Linked DNA regions of Homo sapiens: region 2 is linked to region 1. Evidence: fine-mapped expression QTL. Tissue or cell type: whole blood. Region 1 holds a variant in brackets; the other region holds the start of a gene. All regions are shown on one strand. Distances are from middle to middle.

What was found. PIP is the estimated chance that this variant, and not a neighbour inherited with it, causes the effect.
Region 2: CHST2 starts here. The variant in region 1 is fine-mapped to the expression of CHST2 in whole blood (TOPMed, PIP 0.94).

The regions. Positions count from the first base shown.
Region 1 is chr3:143,170,319-143,180,944 of GRCh38, forward strand. It overlaps the pseudogene PBX2P1. Among named protein-coding and RNA genes, the nearest start is that of CHST2, 56 kb to the left of the region's middle. RefSeq lists an enhancer at 859-998. The variant C/T (reference allele first, on the strand shown) is at 4,410.
Region 2 is chr3:143,113,756-143,124,381 of GRCh38, forward strand. It overlaps CHST2 (carbohydrate sulfotransferase 2), which reads left to right and starts at 6,016. Exons shown (of 2, transcript NM_004267.5): 1 at 6,016-6,786; 2 at 6,889-10,259. The coding sequence starts at 7,062. The coding sequence ends at 8,654. RefSeq lists enhancers at 5,072-5,573, 5,249-5,378, 5,574-6,073, 6,359-6,408, 6,732-7,373 and 2 more and silencers at 5,839-6,128, 6,619-6,668, 6,699-6,748, 6,799-6,878, 6,939-7,138 and 1 more.

The DNA.
Region 1 (10,626 bases):
CCATCCTATAGCTTTGTCTGTGTACAATTCTAGCATACTGCCAGCCTTAGAATTTTCGGTCAGGTCCCCCTATAGATTGTATACTTCTTGGCAGTTCCTTCCCTTGTTCATTGGGTTCACAGATTCTACTCCATGCAGAGTACTTTGTGCTTTGTAGGTGCTTAATAAACGTGGTGAGTGACAACCCATGATATCTGAACTTACTGAGAAAACATTCCAGAGGGAGGTAAATGAGGATGAAAGGAGGCTGTTGGCAGAGGTGAGGAACTAGGGGCTCTGCAGACCAGCTTCCATGATGCCGCCATGTGGCCTGAGATTGGCCTGGAATCAGCTGCACTATCCCTCTTCACATAAGGCTACAGACTTTGGGGAAAGAGAATCCTTCTCCCTGCTTTACCTCTATACAAGTTCAGGCAGCTGTGTATGTGTGTGTGTATGTGTGTGTGTGTGTAATATTGGAACAGGCAGCACAGATGAGGGCTTGGCAGTGAGAGAAACTGTAGCTTTGACCTCTTACTACAAAGTGTGATGAAGAAGGCTTGAATTTTCAAAGAATTCAACTGTGTCTAATACCAGGTCTGTGGTATAACGTTCTTCCTTGGCTGGGTGCCAAAATGTAACATAAATGCTACACCCAGAGCAAAGGGGTAAAAGAGACCCACTAGTGTTTCCAGGGTTAAATTCTCCCTCCTTCACAGAGCCTTCCAGATTCACACAGTCCACTCAAGTCTCTCCTTTGTAGAAGATCCTACAGCATTTAATACTGGATGCTGCTCAGTTTAGCCCTCAATGATAGTGTCTTGCTATTTTTGGTTAGTTTCTTTAAAAATATAACTTCTGTCTTCCATTTACTTAAATCTCTTCCACGGCTTCTTTGCTTCTTGTTACATGAAGCAGTGCTGAACACAGAGGAGGAACTCAGTAACTGTTAATTGTTTTGCTCTCTAATTAGGCCCACGATAGAGTAGATACTATTGGGTGCTGGTTTTTAGGGGTGTAGGAAAGGAATCTGGGGAGTCATCTTCAAAGATCAGATGCACAAATCTTAACAAGCTGCCTCTCTCTAGTGGCCTCAGGGACTTGAAGCAAGATCAACTGACTTAAAGAAATAAACCACAAGTAGTTAAGAAACACAAAAGTTCAAATTGCATCCGGTGTAGCTCTGTGAGAAAATTTCTGCAGCAGAAGGAAGTCTGTTATTCTTGACCTGAACTTTAGTATTCTGCAGTAATGTGGGGCTGCAAAAATGCTCCTAATCTCTGACAAAGTTAGGTTCTTATCCATATATCATAAGTGAAATGAGAGGAATTGACTGATAACAGAGAAAAAATTTCCCACTTGGCACATACAGACAGTGTATGTATATGTGTATATATACATAGATACTTAAATCAAAGTAATTGGTTAATGTAATGGAAATTTAATCTCAGTTTTAAGTGGTGTTTCTTCTTTATTTGATGTGCATTATTTTAAAAACACAGCAGAGACATAGCCTTTAACCACCTCCCCCATGCCTCTGACATTATTCATACTGAAGTTTTCAAGTAGCAGACTTGGAAAGTGCTTTTTAACTACAGCTCATATCATTAGTGTTTCTGCTGTATAAGCAGAAAAAATTGGGATGCAGCTTAGCAAAAGGCTTCAGGACAACATAAAATACAAAGGGTAATAGATCTGTTTCTCAAACAGTTTTCCTGTGTAATGCGCATCCTAATGATTTCTTTTTAATTAAAATATTTTCACAAGTCTCAGAATGAGTAACCTAAGACTATTTTGTTGGGATAATCTGTATTTCCTGAGATGTGTTAACTTCAGGGTCACTGGTCTTTATTCAGTTCTTGCTCTGCCAGGCCACAGGCTGCCTCATTCTCTCCTTTGCCCTCACAGCTTGGTATCAGCTCCTAATTTTGCATCTGGGCTCTAAACTGGACTTTCCAGCTCCCTGATGGACATTTCAGAAATGTTCTATTGATGTTTCTAACGCAACAAGCCTCATGATATTATCCTTGTGTTAACATCATTGTGACATCCTCCACACACCCAAGTCAACTTGGACTTATTTTTCTGTCTCCTACAAGCAATGGCTGCTAAGTCCTGTTGATTCTGGCTTTGAAATGTCTAGAGAATACCCTCTCATGTAGTCACTTCTATTTTTGTTGCCCTAGTTCAGGCCGTACTCTCTCTTGCTTGCCTGGACCATGACAAGTAGCTGTCTAGTTGGTCTCATGGGCTGCTATCGATTTCCTCTCAAGAGTACCCTTGAAGTTGCCCCAGAGTGCTCTTCCTAAAGAATGACTTGGTGATGTCCCTTTCCTACTGAAAAAACTTGTGGTAAGTCCCAACTGCCTACTGAATCTGTTTCCAACTTTACTCTTCAGCCTCATTTTCTGCAACTCCCTGTCATCTCCCCATGCTGAACCCCAAGAGACAACTCACGATTGCTCGATGAGATGTCCAATTTCATTCCTTTGTGCTGTTGCTTGGGTTGTTTAATGCCTAGAAACTTTAGCAAGACAACATGCAAATATTCTGCAGCTTCTCTGTGCCCCCTCACACCTGCCTGCTCCAAGCGTCATTCTTCCTTTGCAGTTAAAAAAAAATCCGTTTTGGCAGGCTTTATGCAGAATTTGTTTACATTTCTATCTCTCTTACACATGAAACTTGAACTGCTAGACAACAGAGATAATGCAATTTATATCTTTGTTTCTTTAAAGACTCAAGTTGGTGATAGATGCTTATTAAGTGCCCAGTGAATTCTTGTTGAATAAATGAATTGTTGCCTTCTTTGTGAATCTTTATCCAGTTCTCTGAAGCAAACATTATTTTGTATTTATCTTTAAGTTTTTTCTCTTTGTATTTGGTTTCCAGCAGATTTCCATGATGTGTGTTGGCACGTTTTTCTTTCTGTTTATCTTCATGGGGATTGAAGGGCTTCTTGAATCTGTGGCTTGACGTTTTTTTGTCAGCTTTGAAAAATTCTTGGTCATTATCACATATTGCTTTGCCTCCTGTCTTTCCCTCCTCTTTTGGACTCTAATTCCATATATGTTAAATTTTTCTACTAGGTGCCATAGGTCTCCTATATTTTTTTCTATCTTTTTTCTCTGTGCTTCATTCTGAGTAATTTCCATTGTTTTATCTTCCAAATTGCTAGTCCCTTTTCCAGCTGTGTCTAATCTTCTGTTAAGTCTATTTATTGAGTTCTTAGTTTGTAATATCAGTTTAGATTTTTCATTTGATTTCTTTTTTGTAGATTCTAATTTTCTGGTTACTTTTTTTCAATCTTATCTATTTTTATCAGCTTATCAATCATAGGATTTTAAGGTATTTATATAACTCCTTGGATTTCTAGAGAGTCTATTTCTATAATCTTTTAAAAAATTTCTTGGTCATATCTCTTGATATGTTTGTTAACATTTTATCGAATGCCAAATATATATATAAAATAGCAGAGATTATGAATGATACTTTCTTTTTCCAGGGAAAACTTAAAAACTATTCCAGCACTGTAACACTGCTGATAGTCCTGCCCAGTTTCTTATAGTCTCAGAAGCCACTATATGCCTCTCTATAGGTGCTTCTTATCAATCAGTAAATGCCTCAAGGGGAAAAATGTTTGCCCACATGGTTGGGCTCATTTCTTTCTGCTTCCTTTCTCTCCTGGATCTTGACCCTTTAAGTTCTGATTGTCTTGCTGGCCCTGGACTCCTAGCCCTGTTAGGTGGTGAAAGTTCTGTTCTGCTTTTTTTTTTTTTTTTTTTTTTGCTTCTTAGCAGCTGCTTTCTACTTGGCTTCTCAGTCCTTCCACACATGCTGCATATGAATCAGAAAATGCTCTGAAGAGAAAAGTAGTGATTTGGGCTCACCTCAGTGAGTTTCTCTTCACTCTGGACTCCTGGCCCTGAAAATCCTGGCTTCCTTGAGTTTCCAATGTCTTCAAAACAGGTTGTTTTTGTTTTTGTTTGTTTGTTTTCCATTTTATCACACCTTTGTGGTTTGTTCACTGGGATGTTTGCACTGCCATAAAGTAGTTTGCCATGGCTAGATGTGGGAGTCTGTGTGTTCTTCTATTATGATGCTTTCTTCTACTATAAATTTCTTTCATTTGTGAGTTCTGTGAGAACAAGGACAGTAATTTATTTCATTTATCTCTTGTAAAATGCCAACTCATTCATTAATTCACTCAACATAGGTTTTGAGCACCTACTATGTTGCCAAGTAGTTGCCAAGTGCTGAGGACAGAGCAGTGAAGAAGATGGACAAAGTCTCAGCTGTCATAGGGCGCATGTCCCAGCATGGGACAGGGCACACAAACAAACAAATAGCAAGAATATCAAATAGTAAAAGGTGTTGTGTACAGGATTAAATTCAAATGCTGAGGGAGAAGGTGGGTGGCTACTTAAAGCCTT[C/T]TCTAAATGGGTAACCATTACTTTGAGGTCTGAATGACAAGAAAAAGTCAGCCATGAGGAGATCTAGGGAATTTCCAGGCAGAGAGAGGAGCAAAGGTGAGGGACCAGGGAGTTTGCTAAAGTGGATTAAATTTGTGGGATTCTAAATTAAAAATTTTAACATAAGCTTCTTTTTTTAACCTCTGAGACTATATATGTATAGGCAAATATCCTATTTTTGTTTAAAAATGAGAAGAATTAGGATTTACATAAAATTGTTGTATTTTTATCAGAGCTCTGTTATCAGTTAAGGTCTTAGCAAAAACCAATCCAATTCACATAGTTCAAGAGACTGCAAAGAAGAGGCTCCTTAAGGGGTGTGGACAGGATTAAGAGAACGAGCAGGGTTGCTGAGGCACCCAGAGACTAGCAACAGTGGCAGTCATTACCACCCCAGGCCTGAAGGGATGAAGAACATTGCAAAGTGCTTTACTCCAGTCTGGTGGGAGCTGAAGTCAGGGAGAGATGTAGTCGCTACCAGAAAACATGCTGCAGGGCAGGGTGGGAGCAGGAAGGCAACATCTTCTCTTCTTTTTCCTCCTGCCTCACCTTGAGGGGTCGGTCTTGGCCAAACCCAACCAAGAGCCAGCTGGCAGTGGAGCCAGGTTGATGTGGTCCAGTGGAGGCAGTCTCCAAGGCTGCACAGAGAGGGGCAAGAATGGGCCTGGGGAGAGGCACAAACCAACCACACCCTCAGGTGCATTTTTGAGATGACAAGCAAGAATGAATTTGGAAAGTTTATAGGCTTCTTTTGTAGCTTCAGCCTTACTAGGACTTACATGATATAAAGTGCCTTTCCTACGTCGAGAATAGGGGGTCTGAAGGGTTTTCAGTCATACATTATGTCTTTAAGGACAGAAATTTTTTTTGAGGAAACTTGCAATTAGCTTGGGAGACTATGAGGACATAAGAATATGTGGAGTTTTGAAGGAAAGTTTTAGGGCAGAGTCTGGCATTTGTGCTAGTAAGAGGAAGAGACCCAGCGAGAGACTGGGGACAAAGCTTTAAGTCAGAGAGAGGTCAGAGAAGAAGGTGCCTGCAGTGGAACATGAAATCCTCAGTGTAAATTCACCAATACCCAAAAAGAGTCCTTTAAATCTGGCCATACACTGAAAATCTGTCTGCTAACAAAGGGTTCATGATATCCAAGCAAATATGGTATATGACCCAGAAATAGCTATTTTTTCAATTCAGCAATTTAAAATAGCAAAATCTTGAAATTTTATTGCCCAGGATATACAAAAGTACTCATACACACTTGTCTGCATACCCACCAACACAAAATGTCAATGTGGACACACACTCCCGCTTGGGCCTCCTCTCTCTCTCCGGCTCCATTTTCTCCGCCGCCGGGGGCCGGGGTCTCCTGTGGGGGGCCCAGCCGGTATCCCAGGTCTCCCTTCAGTGCCGGGGTGAACCCCCGGGGGAGCCGAGAGCCGGGGGCAGACGGGCGGGGGTTGGGGCGGAGGGAGCAGCGGCCCCAGCGAGTTTGTGGGGAGAAGTAACCAAGCGGGGGGAGGGGCTGAGCAGGGAGGGGGCCTCAGGGCCCCCCCCCAGCTATGGACTAACGGCTACTGGGGCCGCCTCCTCCAGGCGGGGCCCGGGGGGGGCCTGGGATTGGTGAGTGGGGAGCCTGGGGGCCCTGGCGAGCCTCCTGGTGGCGGAGACCCCGGTGGGGGTAGCGGGGGGTTCCCGGGAGGCCGAGGGAAGCAAGACATCGGGGACATTCTGCAGCAGATAATGACCATCACCGACCAGAGCCTGGACGAGGCCCAGGCCAAGAAACACGCCCTAAACTGCCACCGAATGAAGCCTGCTCTCTTTAGCGTCCTGTGTGAAATCAAGGAGAAAACCGGCCTCAGCATTCGGAGCTCCCAGGAGGAGGAGCCGGTGGACCCACAGCTGATGCGCTTGGACAACATGCTTCTGGCAGAGGGTGTGGCTGGGCCCGAGAAAGGGGGCGGCTCAGCAGCAGCAGCTGCAGCCGCTGCAGCCTCTGGTGGTGGCGTGTCCCCTGACAACTCCATCGAACACTCGGACTATCGCAGCAAACTTGCCCAGATCCGTCACATATACCACTCGGAACTGGAGAAGTATGAGCAGGCATGTAATGAGTTCACGACCCATGTCATGAACCTGCTGAGGGAGCAGAGCCGCACCAGGCCCGTGGCCCCCAAAGAGATGGAACGCATGGTGAGCATCATCCATCGAAAGTTCAGCGCCATCCAGATGCAGCTGAAGCAGAGCACCTGCGAGGCTATGATGATGCTGCGCTCCCGTTTCCTGGATGCCAGACGAAAGCGCCGTAACTTCAGCAGACAGGCCACTGAGGTCCTAAATGAGTATTTCTACTCCCACCTGAGTAACCCATATCCTAGTGAGGAGGCCAAGGAGGAGCTTGCCAAGAAGTGTGGCATCACCGTGTCTCAGGTCTCCAACCGGTTTGGCAACAAGAAGATTCGCTATAAGAAAAACATCGGAAAGTTCCAAGAGGAGGCAAACATCTATGCTGTCAAGACAGCCGTGTCAGTCACCCAGGGGGGCCACAGCAGCACCAGCTCCCCGACACCCCCTTCCTCTGCAGGCTCTGGCGGCTCTTTCAATATCTCAGGATCTGGAGACATGTTTCTGGGGATGCCTGGGCTCAACGGAGATTCCTATTCTGCTTCCCAGGTGGCATCACTCCGACGCTCGATGGGGCCAGGGGGCTATGGGGATAACCTCGGGGGAGGCCAGATGTACAGCCCACGGGAAATGAGGGCAAATGGCAGCTGGCAAGAGGCTGTGACCCCCTCTTCAGTGACATCCCCAACGGAGGGACCAGGGAGTGTTCACTCTGATACCTCCAACTGATCTTGCCCCTCAGGGTCACAGGGGTGGGGGCTCTCACAAGGCGACTCTTGAAGAGGACGCAGGCTTCCAGAGGACAAACCCCAATACAGGAGAAGCACAAGACAGAGAAGGGCCAATGGGGTCATCCGCTCCCTAATGAGACTGTCTGTGCTGGGGGTGCTAATTACATGGCAGGAAGAATGGGGCCCCTAAGGGGAGTGTGGGGTCTGTCTCTCCCTTTTTTCCAACTTTTTCCTCTCTCGCTTTCTTTCTTACACAGAAACATGCACATACCCAGAAACCTATTTTCTCAGACCCCTTTTTCTCCTCTGTCTTTCTCTCTCCCTCTCCCACACCTCACACACACATACTCCCACTTGCAACTATTCTGTTTCTCTCCTGGGCTCCCCCACTTTCCCTTCCCCACCCCACTTGTAGGCTCTGGAATCTGGAGACGCCAGCCCTGCCCAATCAGAGATGCCAAAAATGGGGACATGACTTCTGGACAGAGGACATGGGACACGCCCCCATGCATCCCCACCCCTGCCCCTCCAGACAGCTTACTTACCTCATACGCAGCTCATCTTAAACCAATAGAATCGCTTGGTGGACGAGAGTGTCTGACTCAGATATCTACCTCGGAGGGAGTTTCTGCTACTTTAGGGAATTATTGACTGGGCTTTGGGGTTGAACTTTTTTTTTTTTTTTTTTTTAAAGAAAGAAAAAGAAACCCTGGGATCCATCTGTTTTTGTTGTTGTTGTTGTTTTTGTTGTTGTTGTTGTTGGTGGTGGTGGTTCTTAATTTTTAATTTAGTTTGGGGAAGTAGCTTGTTTTTTTTTTTTAAATAAATATGTTGATTTCTTGTCTTTTTTTTATTTCTTACTTTCCCATATTAGGGGTGATAGCCAAAGGGGTTCTGGTAAGAGAAAGGGGGACAAACAGAACTGGTAAAGAGGCCCCCCTGGCTCCAGGCCTGTCCATCAGGAAGTAAATTTTACAGGGCACCAAGCTTTGCCCCCTAAAATCCATTAGGTGTTCTTTGTTCATGCAGGCAGGTTTCTGCCGCATTTGATGTGGAGGCAGTGAAGGGCTTGCCCTGCTGGCCTCTCATCCCCCTTCTTCCCACAACCCTTGGGCAGGGCTGGACTCAGTAATTTTGAGGAAATTGAAGATGCCATCTTCCCCTGTGAGTGACATGTCTTTAATTTTTTAAAAAACTCTATTTGAAAATTGGAGGGGGAAGAATGGGAAGGGAGTTATTGCCAAATATGTTAATTATGGGTTGGGGTGCTTGTATATGTATCTTCCTCAATTTCCGCATAAATGAGGTATCTTTTTGTCACACCAAAATCAAGGGGTAGGGAGAGGGAGGAGGTTGCAAAAAGCCAGATGTGGGGGAAAAGTAACATCAACACTGTCCCATCCTCAGCCCTGAACCCTACCATCTGATCCCCTCAGACATTCTCAGGATTTTACAAGACTGTCAGAGTGGGGAACCCCTCCCATTAAAGATCCGGGCAGGACTGGGGACAGGTTGGAAATGTGATGGGTTGGGGGGTGGGAGGCATGGGCCGGGGGCAGTTCTCTCCTCACTTGTAAACTTGTGTAGTTTCACAGAAAAAAAAAATGCAGTTTTAAATAAAGAAATTTCTTTAAAAAAAAAAAATGTCAATGTGTCCCTAGGCCTGGAGACCATGTGTGATTAGGCTAAGTTATATTTAGTTCCTATCTAATATTTTCCCATAAAATATTCCAAACTGAACAATCTCTCATTTCTACATTTGAATATTGTGTAACTTGCCAGTGAATATTTTTTTTGTTACTTTCTAAATTTCCATTGTTTCTTTTTCACATGAAAAATAGGACAGTTCTTAGATGGGGAAAGGCAACAGGATAAATCTGTGGTTCAAAGGATATAAGCACTATTTTATTACTGAAAACTTGAAATGACTTATTATGTGGCATATTATTCTTCTCAAAAGCCTCGTTAGTATTTACCATTTTAAGAACTTTATACATTTTTAACTCATTAAGTCTCACAGAGACAATGTGAAGCAGGTACTAATGTTATTATTGTCATTATAGGCATGGAAAGCTGAGAGCTGTGGCACAGGGAGGTGAAATAACCAGCACAAAGCCGTACAGTTGACAAGCGAGGAAGCCAGGGTTCAAATCCAGGAAGTCTGGCTCCAGAGTCTGTGGGCTAAACCACTATGCCTAGTGTTCAATGGAGACTTGAGTTTATGATAATCTCGCTGCTGTAGGGTTCAGATTTGCATATTATGAAATGAAATGTTTATAAACGTTCCAACCAACGTTTTCTTTTTTATTTTTTTCTTCTTCAACTTTTATTTTAAACTCAGGGGTACATGTGTAGGATATACAGGTTGTTACATAGGTAAATGTGTGCCATCGTGGTTTGCTGCGCAGATCATCCCATCACCTAGGTATTAAGCCTAGAATCCATTAGCTATCTTTCCTGATGCTCTCTCTCCCCCACCCCCTCCCCTGACAGGCCCCGGTGTGTGTTGTTCCCCCTCCATGTGTCCATGTGTTCTCATCATTCTGCTCCCACTTATAAGTGAGAACATGCAGTGTTTGGTTTGGCTTTCTGTTCCTGTGTTAGTTTGCTAAGGATAATGGCCTCCAACTCCATCAATGTCCCTGCAAAGGACATGATCTCCTTCTTTTTTATGGCTGCATAGTATTCCATGGTGTATATGTACCACATTTTCTTTATCCAATCTATCATTGATGGGCATTTAGGTTGAGTCCATGTCTTTGCTATTGTGAATAGTGCTGCAATGAACATACACATGCATGTATCTTTATAAAAGAATGATTTATATTCCTTTGGGTATATGCCCAGTAATGGGATTGCTGGGTCAAATGGTATTTCTGCCTCTAGGTCTTTGAGGAATTGTCACACTGCCTTTGACAGTGGTGGAACTAATTTACATTTCTACCAACAGTGTGAAAACACTTCTTTTTCTCTGCAACCTTGCCAGCATCTGTTGTTTTTTTGACTTTTTAATAATAGTCATTCTGACTGGTGTGAGATGGTATGTCATTGTGGTTTTGATTTGCATTTCTCTAATGATCAGTGATGCTGAGCTTTTTTTAACATTTGTTGGCTGCATGTATGTCTTTTTTTTTTTTGAGACGAAGTCTAGCTCTGTCACCCAGGCTGGAGTGCAGTGGCGTGATCTCGGCTCACTGCAACCACTGCCTCCTGGGTTCAAGCAATTCTCTGCCTCAGCCTCCCAAGTAGCTGGGATCACAGGCACCCACCATCATGCCTGGCTGATTTTTGTATTTTTAGTAGAGACAGGGTTTCACCATCTT
Region 2 (10,626 bases), 57 kb before region 1:
TTAGCAGAGAAGGGGTTTCACTGTGTTGGCCAGGCTGGTCTTGAACTCCTGACCTCAAGTGATCCACCTGCCTTGGCCTCCCAAAGTGCTGAGATTACAGGCATGAGCCACTGCACCCAGCCAGAAATTTTTGATTGTAAATAACAGAAATGGACGGTGAGTAACATAAGCAGGAGGCGAAAGGGATTTGGGGAAGCATTTGGGGTAGCTCACAGACTTTAAACAAAGAACAAACAATAGTCTTAAAAAGGGTAGGGTCCCTTCTGAGAGATAATGAGCCATTGCTTTAGGGCTCTGCTGTTGGCCCGAGAGGGCAGCAACCATTTTCCTTCTTATGAATCTCTCTGCTAAAGATTCAGATTGCTTGGCACATGGTGGGAACTCAATACATATAGGATGACCGAATGAGTGACTGAGTGAATGAATGAATGCAACTTTCATGGAGAGAACATCTAATTGGTTGAGCTTGGGTCATGTACCTGCCCCTTGGGAGGAGGGGAGGAGTACTTTGGCTGAAGGTCCCACCAAATCCACGTACAATGGGGTGCATTGGTTCAGATACTGTTACCACAGAAAAGAATGGATGTGGGTCAGGCAGAACCCAATAGGATGCCTACCACAGGGAACAGAGCAATGGCTGGCAGACTAGAGAAGTCAGTGGTTATAGGTGTGGTGGCGGAGCATCTCCTGGTCCAGCTAGCTAGCTCCTGTCCTCTAATATCTGGAAGGAAAAAACTGCAAGAAGAAGCCACAGGCTTTGTTACCAATCTTCCAGGCTGGGGTGAGACCCGGGAAGTAGACAGCTGGGCTAGGTCTCAAAGGTGAAGATGCAGAAAGGCTGAGGAACTCCAAGTGGAGTCTGGGGAAGAGAGAGGGGTGCTCAAAGACAACACCAGAGTGACACATTTAGAAATTAGCTACATATGTTCTTAGAGAAGCAAACCTGTGTGCGCTTCTCCCATAACATCCATTTTGTGCTTCTTCTTTTTCTTATTTCCCCTTCCTGCCCCCTGCCACCACCTCCTCCTTTTTTCTGAGACAGGGTCTTGCTGTATCACTCAGGCTGGAATGCACTGGCACCTACATGGCTCACTTCAGCCTTGAACTCATGGGCTGAATGAAGTGAGCCTCCCACCTCAGCCTTCGAGTACCTAGGACTACAAGCCTGTGCCACTATGCCCAGCTAATTTTTAATATTTTTTGTAGATATGGGGGTAAGGGGTAGTGGGAGGGTTTTGGGGGGCGGGTCTCTCTATGTTGCCCAGGCTGGTCTCAAACTCCTGGGCTCAATTGATCCTCCTACCTTGGTCTCCCGAAGTGCTGGGATTATAGGAGTGGGCCACTGTGCCCAATCTGTGCTTCTTAACAAATTGATTTTTAAAGTCTATGTTAAGGAAACCCCTTCAGGTTTTGTAAACCAGGCACACCCCAATCAGGTAGACAGCATAATCGCATTCACTGGGCTAGACCTCATCCCCACTCAGGGCTTCTGCACTTGCAGTATCGTCTGCATGCAACTCTCATCCCTCAGTTTTCATCTGGCTGCATCCTCATTCTTTGCAAGGGTCACCTCCCCTTTGCAAACCTTACTTTCCCAATTTAAAAATAGCTGTTTCCAGTCACTCTCCATCACATTAATATTTTATTTCTTCTATAGTACTTACCATTCTCAAAAATAATCTTATTTGTTTAAATGTGTGTGCACTGAGTATCTCCCACTCTAGAGTGTAAACTTCATGAAGGTAGGGTCTAGGCCTGTCTGCTTCACTTTTGCATCTCACATAGCTAGACCAGCACCTGGTACATTATAGGTGCTTACTAAATATTTATTGTCATCCTTATATTTCTGGGATAAACCCAAATTGGTTCTAGTTTATTGTCCTTTTTTCCCCACTTGAGTGGATTTGTTTTGCTTATATTTTATTTAAGAGTTTTATGTATAAATTAATCAGAGACAGTACCAAATTTCTTCTCTGAAATCCCTCTGTAGTTATTATCCCCTTTGAATGAGTTGGGGGAAATATTCCCTCTTGTTCTCTTCTCTGATAGAGATAAGACTGAAACAATCTAGTTCTTGAAAGTTTGGTGGAACCCTCCTTTAAATCCCTCTGGTAATAGTGTTGTTTCAATTTGTAAGTACTGTTTTTCTTCTTTTTCTTTCTTTTCCTTCCTTTTCTTTTTTTTTGAGACAGAGTCTCATTCTGTTGCCCAGGCTGGAGTGCAGTGGCGCGATCTTGGCTCACTGCAACCTCTGCCTCCCGGGTTCAAGCAATTCTCCTGCCTCAGCCTCCCGAGTAGCTGGGACTACAGGTGCGCACCACCAAACCAGGCTAATTTTTGTATTTTTAGCAGAGACGGGGTTTCAGCCTGGTCTCAAACTCCTGACCTCGGGTGATCTGCCCAACTCGGCCTCCCAAAGTGCTGGGATTACAGGTGTGAGCCACCGTGCCCAACCTCTTTTTCTTTTTTTTTTTTTTGAGACTGGGTCTCACTCTGTTGCCCAGGTTGGAGTGCAGTGGCACCATTATGGCTCACTGCAGCCTTGACCTCCTGGGGTCAGGTAATTCTCCCATCTCAGTCTCCCGAGTTGCTGGGACTACAGGCATGCACTGCCACACTTGGCTAATTTTTTTGTAGTTTTTGTAGAGATGGGGTTTTGCCATGTTGCCCAGGTTGGTCTCAAGCTCCTAGGCTCAAGTGATATGCCCACCTCAGCCTCCCAAAGTGTTGGGATTACAGGCATGAGCCACCGTGCCCGGCCATAAGTAGTCTTGTATCTTTTTGAGATTGTTAAAGCAAGTTGTTTTTCCTTCCTGTTAGAACTTTATCATTTCATCTCAGTTTCTAAACTAAGTAGAGCGGTTACTCTTGGAGGTTTTTGGGCTGTGTAATGGGTTCATGCATATTCATTATATTAAAACATAGGACATTTAAAAGGGCCACTTGGACTAACAATGGCAGCATATCTTAAATCAAGGATTATGAGTAACCTGAATCTATAATCTCAAGTTCTATTGAAAATGCATATTTGTTCAAAATATGAGGGAGTGAATCTATCTTGGTGCCCAGGGGCAAACATTTTCCAAAGGTGAATCTTCTAGGATTCACACAGATAGGCCCAAATGGGAACTGTTCAGGTAACCCAGCCTTGCATCTTTCCCCAGTTCAGACTCTGGAAGAAAGTCCTTGAAGATCTCTGGACATTTGTCCAGGATTAAGCAAAAGCCACAGCAAGTTTCTTTCACTCGCATCAGTGTGAAGAGACCACCAAACAGGCTTTGTGTGAGCAATAAAGCTTTTTAATCACCTGGGTGCAGGCGGGCTGAGTCCGAAAAGAGAGTCAGTGAAGGGAGATAGGCGTGGGGCCGTTTTATAGGATTTGGGCAGGTAAAGGAAAATTACAGTCAAAGGGGGTTGTTCTCTGGTGGGCAGGTGTGGAGGGGGGGATCACAAGGTGCTCAGTGGGGGAGCTTTTTGAGCCAGGATGAGCCAGGAGAAGGAATTTCACAAGGTAATGTCATCAGTTAAGGCAGGACCTGCCATTTTCACTTCTTTTGTAGTGGAATGTCATCAGTTAAGGCAAGGACCAGCCATCTGGATGTGTACATGCAGGTCACAGGGGATATGATGGCTTAGCTTTGGCTCAGAGGCCTGACAGTTTCCAATAGAACATAACAGGCAGCAGAGAAGACAGAGACTGAAAGAGCATCCTGGGGGAGATGGAATTGTGACAAACTAAACCAGTGAGCCGAAATTAAGGCTAGCCCTGTGGCATGACTGGCTCTTGTGCAAGTGACATTATTATGTGACATATTATATGTCTGGGTCATTACTATGCTAAAATAAGTAGATTAAAATGAAAGGAATTTCCAAACAAATGCGGGAAGGAAGGCATTATGAAGTTTTCAGATGTCATTAGCTATAACAAAGTTCAGAATTAATCATGACACCATGCAAAATGGGAAAAATTTGCAAGCAAGGAGAGGGTGGAGATGCCAGAACCCGTAAATTTATGCCAGCTGAGCACTGTGGGGGCACCTGGCAAATGGATTTACTATTTTGCCAACACCAGTAAAGTGTTACAAAATTGCAAACGGAATTATTTCTATGCAAACAATTGTTTTTAAAAAGGGTCCCTACATCGACTAATGCAATTCAGTTTTTTTCTGGGTAAGCACAAAGCCAGAAACTAAATGAAAAATATTAGAAATTATTTTTCTTGGAATCATGTTGAATATTAAAATTGAGATTTACTTTCCTCCCCAATTCCCTCTCTCTCCCATCAGTCTTTTCATGCACCAATGTCATTTTAGTTTTCGTGGTAAAAGAGGTGGTGAAAAAGGGGCAGGGGCATTTGAGAGAGTAGGCGAAGGGAGGCTGGGGATTCCAGAAAAGGAAAAGATGGGGAGTCGCTCAATTAAACTCTACCACCTTCATCTGTTAACAGGGATTCTTGCCTGTCTCGACCCACTTCCAGAGGCAATGCCATATTATTTGAGAAAGCTGGATATAAAATTTGAGCTCTGCTGTCCTTGTCCCAATCCCCCTCCCCAGGAGAAAAAATAAGCTGAACTGTACTCGTGACATTATGGGTTTTTCTGGAAAACAAGGATAAATAAGTTTTTTGAACATTTTTCTCCCCTGAAACTAAATCCGTAAGAGAGTTAAAAACCCGTGGAAAGCGAGTTAAGTCACTTTTCAAGTCTTTGTACTCAGGGGATTCTGTAAGACTCATGGAAGAATAATGGCGCAAACAGCAATATTTTAATGTTAGAACGGTCCTCTGAAAAGTCTGCCCGAAACGCTACAAAGATAATTGTGCAGTAACTTCTAAAAACTCTACTGGGACAGGAGGCAACAAAACTCCGGATCAGCGAGAGCTCTGTTTATCCGAGGGTGCTGAGCCTCAGGCCCCACGGAGATTCCCTTTTCGGCACTTGGAGGCCTGAACTCAGGTCTAACCTTTCGTGTGCGCGCTCTGATACTCAACCACCGTTCAGTCTCCGGAGGCTGTTACAACTGTCCCCATTCTACAGATGAAGTTGAGGCTACAGCTTAGTGTTCTTGGGGAGGGAGGGAGTTGGGGGGAGAGAGAGACGCTTTTCCTCATAACCTTAAACAAAAGTACTTAAACCTAAAGCAACTGAAAAATGATTTTCTTTCAACAACGGTGTTTCCTTTGGGGTCAAGTTCTTTGATCTCATCTACAAAACCAAGAAGCGGGACAAGTATTTTTCTGCAAATTAGAACGGGGCGTTCCCCTCCCCCATCACCCCAATTCCAGAGGACGTCAATCACAGTGGACGCAGCACCGCGAGCGGAAATGCGGAGAGCATCGGGGCTCCGCATGTGGGGCACAATGAAACAAGAGCAGCCCCGGCCAGAGGTCCAGTAAAGCGGAAAGACGGTCCCGCCCGCACACCCCTCCGGAAAACTGAAGCGTCTCCTCTGACCCCCAAGGTCAGAAAGATTTATTACTTCCTTCGAGAGGGCGCAGCCACAGACCCACTAGAGAGGGCGGGCAGGGTGTCGGAAGCCAGAGAACGGCGCTCCGCGTCCTCCCACCGCTCCAGGGCGCAGAGGTGTCCTCAGTGCCCGGAGAGGTTGGCAGTGTCGGCCCCGAGGGAAGCGTGGAGCGGACGGCCGACAGGGGATTTCTGCCCAAACTTCATCACCAACTCTTTCTGAGAGCAAAAACATGGGGCCGAGTCCGGCAGCTGCACGCAGAATCCAACTCTCTGGCAGCTCTCGGCACCGACGAGCTCCAGATCCCGCGTTCGCATCCCGGCGCTTTGCGCGCAGAGCTAAGCCTTCGGACCCGTGGACTGCAGCCCCCGCGCGTCGCGGTAAAGCGGGTCGCGTCTCCAGCCCCCGAGGCGCAGCGACGGTGGGAGCCGGCTCGGCGTTGGGGGCGGGGGCGGGGCCGGCGAAGGGGGAGGGCTGCGCGGCGGAGGGGAGGAGCCGCGGCGACAGACGGCGGCGCGCACCAACCGGGCGCCGGCTGGCAGGAGCCGCGCAGAGGCTGGTCCGAGCGCGTTGCGGGCGCCCGGCGTAAGGGGAGTCGGGTAGCAGCATCCTCCTGGGCGCCGCTTTCGCGCGGCGGCGGCGGCTGCGGCGGGGTCTTTCTTTGCTTAAATACCTCGTTGGCCAGAAGCGCTGGTACCGGGGGCGGGTTGGGTCGGGTCGGGCAGTGCTGCACACCTGGGTTTCCTTGCCTAGAGCTGTGTGTTCGGGGTCCTTTGGTCCAGTCGGAGGCTGCGGAGCGGCGGGGGTTGCCTGCGCTGTCCGCCCGGGCATCCTCCCGGTGATGGAAGCAGCCGCCGCCGCCGCTGCGGGGTCGCGCTGTGCCCCATCCACCGCTGCCAGAGAGGTGGGAAAATTCGCCGCACGGAGGCCGAAAGCGAGAGGGGCTGCGCCGCTATGCCGGGAGCTGAGTCCCATATAAGCCGCCCCCAGCCATCGCCCCCAGCCGGCTTCGTTCCCCTGAGCGAGACAGGAAGCTGCGGTCCCGAGAAAGCGGAGGAGACGTCGCTGGAGCCGGGAGGCGCCGGGTTCGGCGGAGCGCGGAGCGGGGCTCTGGGCCGCGTGAAAGTTTTTCTTCCCGAGCCGCAGGGCGCCCGCTGCCCGGAAACTGCCCAGGGATAAGTCGGCCGACTCCCCAGACCCCTCGAAGGTGCGGGGACCCCCAGCGGAAGCGAGAGGGAGCGAAATCGAGGAACGAGTGACAGCCGGACAGTCCGCCGGGCGGTGATCCGGGGCCGCTCCCGGGCGCGCCCTCGGCTCCAGGTGAGCGGAGGAACCGGGCAGAACCGAGGGTGGGCGTTACTTAGGAGGAGGAGGCTGGGAGGGAGATTGGGGCGCATCCGCTCACTCCGCTTCCCCTCGCAGGTCCTACCCGGAGCCGCTGCCATGGGAGAGCCAGCCTTGGGCGCTGGGGACCAGCCGCCGCGCCCGCCTCGGAGTCGCGGCCCGAGTCCCGGCGCCAGCAGCCAGCCCGCTGCGTCCCCTTCCCGGGCTGCAGGGCTGCCTCCGCCGCGCCGCCGGCCCGGATTGTGCCTGTGATGAGCCGCAGCCCGCAGCGAGCTCTGCCCCCGGGCGCGCTCCCTCGGCTGCTCCAGGCTGCGCCTGCAGCCGCGCCGCGTGCCCTGCTCCCGCAGTGGCCCCGGCGCCCAGGACGCCGCTGGCCCGCGTCCCCTCTCGGAATGAAGGTGTTCCGTAGGAAGGCGCTGGTGTTGTGCGCGGGCTATGCACTGCTGCTGGTGCTCACTATGCTCAACCTCCTGGACTACAAGTGGCACAAGGAGCCGCTGCAGCAGTGCAACCCCGATGGGCCGCTGGGTGCCGCAGCGGGGGCAGCCGGAGGCAGCTGGGGGCGCCCAGGGCCGCCTCCGGCCGGGCCGCCCCGTGCTCATGCCCGTTTGGACCTCCGCACTCCTTACCGCCCTCCCGCTGCCGCCGTCGGGGCGGCTCCTGCAGCCGCGGCAGGGATGGCGGGGGTTGCGGCCCCTCCAGGCAATGGCACTCGGGGCACCGGGGGCGTCGGGGACAAGCGGCAGCTGGTGTACGTGTTCACCACGTGGCGCTCTGGCTCGTCGTTCTTCGGCGAGCTATTCAACCAGAATCCCGAGGTGTTCTTTCTCTACGAGCCAGTGTGGCATGTATGGCAAAAACTGTATCCGGGGGACGCCGTTTCCCTGCAGGGGGCAGCGCGGGACATGCTGAGCGCTCTTTACCGCTGCGACCTCTCTGTCTTCCAGTTGTATAGCCCCGCGGGCAGCGGGGGGCGCAACCTCACCACGCTGGGCATCTTCGGCGCAGCCACCAACAAGGTGGTGTGCTCGTCACCACTCTGCCCCGCCTACCGCAAGGAGGTCGTGGGGTTGGTGGACGACCGCGTGTGCAAGAAGTGCCCGCCACAGCGCCTGGCGCGTTTCGAGGAGGAGTGCCGCAAGTACCGCACACTAGTCATAAAGGGTGTGCGCGTCTTCGACGTGGCGGTCTTGGCGCCACTGCTGCGAGACCCGGCCCTGGACCTCAAGGTCATCCACTTGGTGCGTGATCCCCGCGCGGTGGCGAGTTCACGGATCCGCTCGCGCCACGGCCTCATCCGTGAGAGCCTACAGGTGGTGCGCAGCCGAGACCCGCGAGCTCACCGCATGCCCTTCTTGGAGGCCGCGGGCCACAAGCTTGGCGCCAAGAAGGAGGGCGTGGGCGGCCCCGCAGACTACCACGCTCTGGGCGCTATGGAGGTCATCTGCAATAGTATGGCTAAGACGCTGCAGACAGCCCTGCAGCCCCCTGACTGGCTGCAGGGCCACTACCTGGTGGTGCGGTACGAGGACCTGGTGGGAGACCCCGTCAAGACACTACGGAGAGTGTACGATTTTGTGGGACTGTTGGTGAGCCCCGAAATGGAGCAGTTTGCCCTGAACATGACCAGTGGCTCGGGCTCCTCCTCCAAGCCTTTCGTGGTATCTGCACGCAATGCCACGCAGGCCGCCAATGCCTGGCGGACCGCCCTCACCTTCCAGCAGATCAAACAGGTGGAGGAGTTTTGCTACCAGCCCATGGCCGTCCTGGGCTATGAGCGGGTCAACAGCCCTGAGGAGGTCAAAGACCTCAGCAAGACCCTGCTTCGGAAGCCCCGTCTCTAAAAGGGGTTCCCAGGAGACCTGATTCCCTGTGGTGATACCTATAAAGAGGATCGTAGTGTGTTTAAATAAACACAGTCCAGACTCAAACGGAGGAAGCCCACATATTCTATTATAGATATATAAATAATCACACACACACTTGCTGTCAATGTTTTGAGTCAGTGCATTTCAAGGAACAGCCACAAAATACACACCCCTAAGAAAAGGCAAGACTTGAACGTTCTGACCAGGTGCCCCTCTTCTTCTTTGCCTTCTCTTGTCCTCTTTCTCCTATTTCTTACCCTGTCCTCCACCTGCCTTCCATTTTGAAGTGGGATGTTAATGAAATCAAGTTCCAGTAACCCAAATCTTGTTTACAAAATATTCGTGGTATCTGTGAACATGTTAAGAGTAATTTGGATGTGGGGGTGGGGGTGGAGAAAGGGGAAGTGGTCCAGAAACAAAAAGCCCCATTGGGCATGATAAGCCGAGGAGGCATTCTTCTAAAGCAGACTTTTGTGTAAAAAGCAAAGGTTACATGTGAGTATTAATAAAGAAGATAATAAATAATATTCTTTTTAATATTTGCCTCCATTACTTTGGATTCACCTGTGTTACTTGTCCTCAGCTTCAGATAGAATCTCCTTCCCCTCCCTCGTTTCCATTTTTCCAGTCTCTTTCCTGAAAGGCAGCTAAACTGGGTGGGAGCAATTTTTGCCTCCTTGGTAATAACCTGGGGGATGTTTTCTCACATGTAAATCTCAGCCTGTTAGGTGTCCAGGAGTGAAACACATCTTTGTATTCTAAAGGCAGAAACCAAACAGGGCAGTGGAAGAAAAAGCACACTACTCTCTTCAACTTTGAACACAGGAAGAAGCAACTCCTTCAGGACTTGAAGGCATTTGGTTTTTCATTCCTCTTCAGTTAAAATGGGGAACCTTGAAGCAGAGACCAATGTTTTGGTGCTGAGGCTGGTTCAGAAAAAGGATTTTTAAAAAAAGTATGTAATTTTTAAAAGTTCTGATGATTAGAACACAGACCTCAGGAAAGTAGCGTGAACATACTGCTGGCGATGGTAGCAGCTTCGTTGGTTTAGCAAAGTGACAGAAGTATCTATTTGGAGTGTTTTTCTGACCCTGACACGGTATGTGGAGGTGGATGAAAGCAGCGAAGTTTCATCTGAGAACCGTAAGGGTTTTCCCTTTTCTTACTTGCTTCCCATTTAAATCAGTGCAAGAGAGAATATGAATTTATAATGCTTTACTTGGGATGCCTGTGGAATATGTTGCTTTTCTTTATCATGTTTCCTAAAAGTAAATTTGCAAAGAAAGTAACATGCTGCAGACAGTATAAGGCTTCAGCCAAGAGCTTCTTTTAGATATGATAATGAATTGTGGTAAAGAGGAAATGAAAATGAACTAGTGTGTAGGATTTTGAAATTTGGTATTTTCCAGGGAGAAAACCGTTACATTTTCCTGTAGTGGTTATGATGTTGTGTCCTGAACCCATTTGGTACTGAAACATTCTGCAGAATGTTATACTATGAGAAGAAATTGTGAAGCCCAAATGGGAACAAGAGACAGTGTAGTTGTATATGACAGTAAATACAGTACAAGTTCACTATCATCATGGTTTTATTTCACTGTGATTTTTTATGAGATCTCTGAAAGCCAACATGCATAGGTTAAATGCTGAGAATTTTATTTTAGGGAAAAGATGATAAAAATAATCTGTACGTGGGGAATATTTTAACACACAATGATTCTTAAGTATAATTACCATTGCAATACAAAATCTAGCTACGCTGGTAAGAATTCCAAGGTAAAGAAGCATAAAGGTTTAAAAAGGGGTATATTTAGAAATGGATTTTATAACACAATCTAGAATGCTTATTTCTTAATTTACTAAAATAGTTTTTAGTATTGTGTTTCTGAAGCCAGATTACATCTATAATACATTGATCATGTTTTCCATATTTTTGTGGTAGTGCCTA